Homo sapiens: one gene and its partner. The protein of the gene in region 1 interacts with the protein of each later gene in a pairwise test. Each region holds a gene or a part of one and is shown on either strand. Other genes may lie near its edges. The genes, in order: ZFAND3 and FAM25C.

Evidence for each region.
Region 2: the proteins of ZFAND3 (region 1) and FAM25C interact in a two-hybrid assay, tested with the Homo sapiens proteins (one large-scale study listed by BioGRID).

What each region holds. Positions count from the first base shown.
Region 1 is NC_000006.12:38,060,688-38,064,499, forward strand, and holds part of ZFAND3 (AN1-type zinc finger protein 3), read left to right. Parts: intron 1-905; coding exon 906-1,088; intron 1,089-3,812.
Region 2 is NC_000010.11:47,996,955-48,001,557, forward strand, and holds the start of FAM25C (protein FAM25C), read right to left. Parts: upstream 2,838-4,603; 5' UTR 2,812-2,837; coding exon 2,739-2,811; intron 786-2,738; coding exon 723-785; intron 1-722.

The DNA of each region.
Region 1 (3,812 bases):
CAGTCCTCCCGCCTCAGTCTTCAAAAATGCTAAGATTATAGGCGTGAGCTACTGTGCCCTGCCTGTTCATTTATATTTATTTGCCAGGTACATTTTTTTTTATATACGATTGTGTTATACTTGGGAGATTGGCTACAGGACTCCCCTGCATATACCAAAATCTGTGCATACTCAGGTTCATCAGTCTGCACTGCAGAACCATCGTATATGGAAAGTAGGCCTTCCATATATGATTTTTGCATCCCGTGAATATTGTATTTTTGATCTGCATTTGGTTGAAAAAAATCCACGTGCAAGTGGACCCACACGGTTCAAACCCATGATGTTCAAGGATTAACTATACTTTAACATTTTGTTTATCCTCTCATATTTATGTTTTTAGTATGTCCCTTGTAAATTGAATACAACTGGACTTCATTTAGTCCAAATATTCTGCCTTTTAGCTGATAAGTTCAGTCTGTTTACATTTATTACCATTACTGACATATTTGTACTTATTTCTACCATCTTATTATGTGTTTTCTGTTTACTCTGCTGTTTTCTCTGCTGCCTTTTTCCTTATGACCTTTCCTTCTGAAAAGTTTGAAAAACTATTCTTTATTCCCTTTTTCCTTCTGATTACCCTTAAATTTTTAACATGCGTCTTTGGCTTTGCACAGAATGTTAAAATCAGTATGTTTGCATTCTTCTGAATAATAAGGGACCTTGGAAAACTTTTAACTCTAGTACCTTCCACTAATCTTAAACGTTTTTGACCAGTGTTTTACTCCCATGGTTTTTTAGTCACCCAGATCAGTCTTTATTATTGGTGTTGTTGCATTTAATTTTTGTACCAACTTCCATTGTTTTCTAATCCTCAGAGACTGTGAACTCCTTAATTAAGCTCGTTTTCTATTTTTCTTCAGATTTTCAAAAGAAACAGCCAGACGATGATTCCGCTCCAAGTACAAGTAACAGCCAATCAGATTTGTTTTCCGAAGAGACCACCAGTGACAACAACAATACCTCGATAACCACGCCAACTCTTAGTCCCAGCCAGCAGCCGCTTCCGACAGAACTGAATGTAACTTCACCGAGTAAAGAGGAGTGTAAGTGTCTGGCTTCTGAGGGGTGGTAGAGAGAGCAGCTTAAGAACTTTAGATGAGCATCTTGGTAATGCCTGACCCCAGAAAAAACAGCACTTCTTTTAATTCAAGATAAGTGTCCACATACAAGGCCCAAGCTCAGCAAGTTAGAGAATAAGTTTCAGCCATTCCTGAAGAAATAGCCTTTTATACCGTCAAAGTACATGAAGTTTGAACCAGTCTAGAGAGCAGTGGCTCTCACCTATGTCTGCACATTAGAATCCACTGGGGGTTTTTAAAACAATTTTAATCTTTAGCACCATTCCCTCGTTCTCATTTAATTGATCTGGAGGGAGGCCCAGGGATCTGTTATTTTTAACTCCGCAGAGGATTTCTAATATGCAGCAAGGGACCAGTAAGGGATTCTAACCCTAAAACCCTAATTTAGGAGCCTTAGATTGAAGCTTTACCTCTGTCACTAACTGGGCCTTGACTGTTTCTAAGCATTTAACTGAGATAGCACTATACTTCATAGAACATAGGATGTTTAAAGGAAGGAGGAGATGGTATTACTCTTCTGTAAGTCTTCAGTGTTGGAATGCTATTATGTAGGTTAGAAGTTCACTGTCTACTTAATTTCTTTTTTTTTTTTTTAGATACTCACTCTGTTGCCCAGGCTGGAGTGCGGTTGTACCATCTCAGCTGACTGCAACCTCTACCTCCTGGGTTCAAGTGATTCTCCTGCCTCAGCCTCCTGAGTAGCTGGCATTACAGGTGCCTGCCACCATGCCTGGCTAATTAGTAGAAACAGGATCTCACCATGTTGGCCAAGCTGGTCTCGAACTCCTGACCTCAAATGATCTAACCACCTTGGTCTCCCAAAGTACTGGGATTACAGGCATGAGCCACCATGCCCAGCCCATTGTCTGCTTAATTTTTATAATGTCATAATATACATCTCTTTCCCTCCATCCCCCATCCCTGGCGGTATGTGAGATATACATCTCTTTTAGGGCACAAATATAGTTGATAGTATTTGTTGAAAATTATAGGGATATTATGACATAGTAGTTTTTGCCTTTTAAAAGCTCTACTTGGCCAAGCCAGGAGGATTGCTTGAGGCCAGGAATTTGAGACCAGCCTAGACAACATGGTGAGACTCTTGTCTCTACCAAAAAAAAAAAAAAATTAGCCAGGCGTGGTGGTGTGTGTTTATGGTCCCAGCTACTTGGGAAGCTGAGGCAGGAGGATCTCTTGAGCCCAGGAGTTCAGGGTTACAGTGGACTGTGGTCTTAACCATTACACTGCAGCCTTGTGAGACCTGGCCTTTTTTTTCTTTGAAAGCTAAGTTGAAATTTAGTATTTCAAGTTTCATGAATATCTAGAAACACAGTAGGTTAGAATGTTCTGTGTTCTGTATACTAACTTTGGAAAGGTTAGCAGAAAACAAATATTTATCTAAATCTGTCATAAACTGCTATATTTGGTAATATCGAGAATATAAAATAAGCAAGGTCATAGTCTTTGTCCTCAAAGAATTTGAAGGGGAAATTAAATATATTTGTTGTAGTTTATCAGTGGTTATCAACCAAGAGTGATCTCCCACCCCACAGCCCCAGAACATTTGATAATGTCTGGAGACCAGGAATGCTGCTAAATGTCCTGCATCACATAGGACAGTCCTCTGCAACAAAAAATCATTCAGCTCACGATACCAGTAATGATGAGCTTGACAAACCCTGATACATGTTTGCATACACCCATGTTGGTCCTTATGTATTAAAGACAGCAACTGTTGAAGGGCATTGACCTACTGAGGAAGTGGTGGTAAAGATGGATAGAAGGTGGTGAAGAGACATACTAGACAGAGTAGAATGAGCTGTGGAAGGAAAGCTGCATGGAGTTTCTCAATGGCAAATGACTGTCTTAGGGCCATTTGTGGAAGAGAATGAAAGACAAGGCTGGAAGGGTAAGTTGTGGCCAAGACATAGAGGCTAAATGTCCAGCTAAGCTATTTGGACTTGAGACAGTAGCCATGTTTTTGAGCAGAGGAGGTGATATTATTACAGTTCTTTGGAGAAGTAACCTTGGTTGTATTGAAAATGGAAAGGATTAAACAGGAATAACATTGCAAAGAAAGAATTTTTTAAATATTATAACTTATTGAATAGAGGCCAAGGTGTAGAAATCATATAAGAGGAGAAAAAAAAAAACGGTGAAAATGGTAGTGGTCATGCTAAGGCAGTAGATTTTGTTTTGTTTTAAAAAATCTTTTCAAGATCATGTACTTACTGAGGAGTTGATGACAGCTGTGGCCTCTTGTCCTAGAAAAATATACACCATCCATTTATACCCAATTTTGCATAAAATTTCTCTACAGCTTATTATGGCCCTTGGGTTAAGAACTCCTGGTCTAAGGAAAAAGTTGGTCAGGATCTCATCTGATGGAAACTGGATTGGATTCGTGCATACCAGGATCGGGCCACCACAAATCAATTCAAGCCACCAAAATGCATGTGAGGCTGAGATAACAGTAGCTACCATTTATTGAGCACTTTGTATATGAGACATTATTCTACATGCATATTTTCTCATTGTTTTTCGTGATAACCCAATGAGGTAGATAGTGTCATTATACTCATTCCATAGATGAGGAATTAGACACAAAAAGATTAAGTAATTTGCCTGTGGTCACAAACGAGTAGATACCAGAACCAGGATTCAAATTTAGGCATTTGGCTTCAGAGT
Region 2 (4,603 bases), on another chromosome or scaffold:
CCGAGTAGCTAGGACTACAGGTGCCCGCCACCGTGCCCAGCTAATTTTTTGTATTTTTAGTAGAGATGGGGTTTCACCGTGGTCTGGATCTCCTGACCTCATGATCCGCCCACCTCAGCCTCCCAAAGTGCTGGGATTACAGGCGTGAGCCACCGCCCCCAGCAATTTTTTTGAGACCGAGTTTCGCTCTGTAGCCCAGGCTGGAGTGCAGTGGCATGATCTAGGCTCACTGCAAGCTCTGCCTCCCAGGTACACACCATTCTCCTGCCTCAGCCTCCCAAGTAGCTGGGACTATAGGCACCCACCACCATGCCCGGCTAATTTTTATGTATTTTTAGTAGAGACGGGGTTTCACCGTGTTAGCCAGGATGGTCTCGATCTCCTGACCTCGTGATCCGCCCTCCTCAGCCTCCCAAAGTGCTGGGATTACAGGCATGAGCCACCGTGCCCTGCCATGTTAAATGTTTTGTCCCAGTGTGCTGTCACATAGTCTTGTGTGACTTTGTCTTCTTATTCCACAGAGAGAACCATCTAGACAGTGTCCTAACGCAGTACGGTCTGTGGCCTCTGATGAGCATAGATAACTGCCCCAGCCAAGAGGCTCTGAAAGGCTGCAACATTAGGGGCAGAGTTTGACCTGGTTAGTCAAAGAACAGGTTGGCCCAGCACCTAGCTTCCCTTCCTCCCTCCCTCCTTCCCTGCCCGACCTCAGCCGGCTGTACCTTTCTCTCCAGTCTCCTTGGCATGTCCCACCACCTCCTTCACCACTTCCTCCACGGCATGAACTGAACAGAGGAGACAAGTCCAGGGTGAGGGCTCAGAGCAGGCCGGCTGCCCCTGAGTCCAGGGTGAGGGTTCAGAGCAGAGCCGCTGCCCTCCCAGTCCAGGGTGAGGGCTCAGAGCAGGCCCACTGCCCTCCCAGTCCAGGGTGAGGGCTCAGGGCTGGCTTATCCTCACAACAGACCTATACATCCCTGGGCATCCTAGATGGGGCTCTGGGATGCCACCCCCAGCCAGGACAGACTGGCTCATGAGAAGGACCTTCCCCCACAGCTGGCTTCATTTGGAGACGCCAGGGCCTTGGCTACCGGGAGACGAGCTCAGTGAGCCCCATGAGGGCATGGGTCCCTGAAGCCCCTTGGCCCTGCCCGGCCTGGAATGGCAATGAGCAGGCAGTCTTGCCAGCTGAGACATGAAACCCAGGCTGGGCCTGTGTGCCAGGTCACACCCCTCTCAGGATGTGCTAGCGCCTGCCTCAGGTTGGTTTCCAAAGCCTCATCCACTAAGACCAGGTCTCTCAAAGCAATTCCTCCAACAAAACGGAATTCTCTGCCTACTTCAGAGTTTTTTAAAGTGTGGGTGGTAGTGTGCTAGAACTGAAGGATTTCAGAGTCAGAAGAAATGGTTCTTATTCTAACTCTACCTTCCACCTCTTGGTTCCCTCATCTTTAGAATGGGAATCTGTTGGGATGATGAGACCCAACACCAGGTCACGGGGGCGGCAAGTCCAGCGGAGTCAAAGGAATGAGAAAGAGACAGTTCGAGAGAGAAAATGGGAGCAGGGCGCTATCGCGAGTGTGGAGGCTGCGAAGGCCCCGAGTTCTGGGAGCCCACGCTATTTATTGGTGATCTAACAAAGAAACAGGTGGTGAGGATGTGGAGGTTGAAAGGCAACAGTGTATCAAGTGAATGAGAAACATATGGCTACTTGAGAGAATGGCAGTGCTAGAAGCAAGGAGCCAGCAAGTCTAGCAAGCCCTGCCTCAGCTTTTCTCCCAACACTCAGCTTTTCTCCCAACAGGAATCATAGAAAACTCAGAGGCTAGTGAAAGGTTAAAGCAGGTGGTCCACACCAGCTGCAGAGTCAAAAACAAAATACGCATCTGCTGCCATTTAGAAAGAGGACACAAACTCAGGCAAGACTTTTTCACACGATGACCCATGAGTGGGGCCTGGCTGGGCCTCCCCACACATACCTGCTGACCTCTGAATACAACATACACTTCGGGACCAGGTGCAGTGGTTCACGCCTGTAATCCCAGCACTTTGGGAGGCCAAGAGGAATGGATCACTTGAGGGCAGGAGTTTGAGACCAGCCTGGCCAAAATGGCGAAACCCCGTCTCTGCTAAAAATACAAAAATTAGTCGGGCGTGGTGGTGGGTGCCTGTAATCCCAGCTACTCAGGAGGCTGAGGCATGAGAATCACTTTGAACCCAGGAGGCAAAGGTTACAGTGAGCCGAGATCGCACCACTACACTCCAGCCTGGGTGCCAGAGCAAGACTCCATTTCAAATACAAATACAAATAAAAATAAACATGCTTTAGGGGACTTGGATGAAATTGAAAATGCCCTTTTTGACTTTGAACAGACTTGGTGACTTGTTAAGAAATCTTTGAAGCTTTAAAGTTATGGTAAAAATAAAAATCCATCTTCCTTTTCCTGCATAGGTTATTCAGAATAGGCTGTTTTGACAAGAAAGGCTCCCCAGATTTCCAGAGGGAAGGGTCCAAGCTGCCAGTGTTCACCCAGCACCAGGACTCATGCCCTGCCCCCAGGAGACCTCCCCAGGTCTGCACCCCTCAACTCCGTGCTGACTTGGTAGAGCAGGAGACCAGGGTTCCTGAGGGGCCAAGGCCTCCCCGCAGGTCCTCGCCTGCCTACGTAGATCCGCCTCCCACAGACCCAGTCTGCCCCAGATCCCCCCAGCCCAGGTAGAAAGGAGCCCCGGGTCCTCACTGGCTCCCTCGGTGGCCTTCTCGGTGCGGTGGGCCAGGCCCTCGGCAGCCAGCTTCCCCAGGCCTCCCAGCATCGTGTGGCAGCAGACAGTGGCGAACTAGGATGCTGAGGACTGGCCCAACATGCTTTTATAGCTGCCTCTGGTGTCTGTCTAGGCTCTGGGGCAATAAGCCCTCACCCCAGCCCAGTAGGAGGCTGGACAGGTGAGTCAGTGAGGGCGGCAGCAGGAAGGGGCTGGGCGGAGCCACCCTGGAACTAGGGTGGCAGCATCCCCTGACAGCATGAGGCTTCTGTAACCCTGTCCTAGGGACCCCGTGAAGGATAGGGGCAGGGAGCAGGGCTGGACAGTAGAGATCTGGACATGCTTCTTCCTTGAGGCAGAGGGCCTGAGTGCCAGCCCCCCTGAGACCAAAGCTTCCCAAGCCTGGGTACTGATATGTACCTGGAGACAAGGCCTAGGATTCCAAGCCTGCTGCTCAAGGTCCCCAGTGTGGCCTAGTAAGAGGTTTGGGGGTTCTATGGGCCTGGAGACCTGGGCAGTCCTTTGGGTCATGAACACAAGTGGAATGAGGGTGACTGCCCTCCCCATTCCTGGAGACCCTGGCTCTGCAGAGCAGTTTGCGGCCTCCATGGGACAGGGTGGGGCGTTCAGGGTGGTGCCTTGCCCGAGTCAGAGGGGGGCACAGCACTGGGCAGAAGCGTAGTCACCTGGTGTCACTCAGCTGATGCTCACTCACCCAAGAGGCTCTGTGAGGTCAGCAGTGCCCTCCTATCCCCTGGCAGTCCTGGAGGAGTAGACAGAGGCCTCCACCACCACTCAGGGAGATGCTTCTGGCCTTAGCTAGAATCCCCTAGGAAGCAGCTTCCCTGGCTCCTGGTGCATCGCATGAGGAGTGGCAGGGCTGCTCCCTAGTTACTCATGATGGACAGACATGCCTCAAGCCACCTGCCACATGCTGCTTCCCTTAGTCACCAGCCCAACCTGAGCCTCCGTTTCCTCATCTGTAAAATGGGCATAGCGTGTCTTCTTGGCTGTGTCCCTAATCATCCCTGAGACAAAGCATGCAAGCTCCTGGTAAACACCTGTTCCCTCCACTCATCATTGAGGTGCCCTTTGGCAGTGAGCTCTGACCAACTGGTAGGGTGTGCCAAGGAGTGACTGGGACGTGAGGCTGCCTTGGAGCCAGAGGGCTGGGGAATGTGACTTCTGCTGGCCAGGAGCCAAGGAGAGGTCTTCCCATGCTCCTACTTCTGGGGTGCAGGCCTGTGGCAGGGGTCTGAGGCTCTCTCCCCAATGCAGGCTCCTGGAGCTGCTCTCCTGGATGTGTCGGGGCCTGATTAGTTTACTGGACTGTGGGCCCTCCCAGCCTGGGACTCGGGAGCTGAGACCTTCTTGCATTCCTGCATGGTGTTTGCGGGCTCCAGGGCTACGGCCAGTCCCCCTAGGGTGGACAGTGGGTATCGTGGGCAGCAGGACCTCTGGGTCTCAAGACTGTGGCCCCACACATGCCATTGCTGTCTCCTTTGGGCAGGGGTGGATCGGGGCTTCAACAATTTAGAGGGGCCTCTTTATGAAAAAGAATACAATAATATGATTCTTGCACATTTTTCATTTATATACGTATGAACTTCTGGACCCAGAAGGGGCTGTGAAAGTCGGGGGCCTGGAGCTCAGGCGGGTCCAGATGACCCTGTCCTCCTTTTGTAACAGCCAGAGTCCAGGATGCTTTGCCCAGGGCATTGGGCTGGCACTGCAGAGGCCTGGGGGATGGGGGGACACCTGGGACATGGCTGGTGGGAATTGTTCTAGGAAACCTCAGGGATTCTCCCTGGACCTGTCAAAGCCCCTTCCCTGTTTCTTCTGA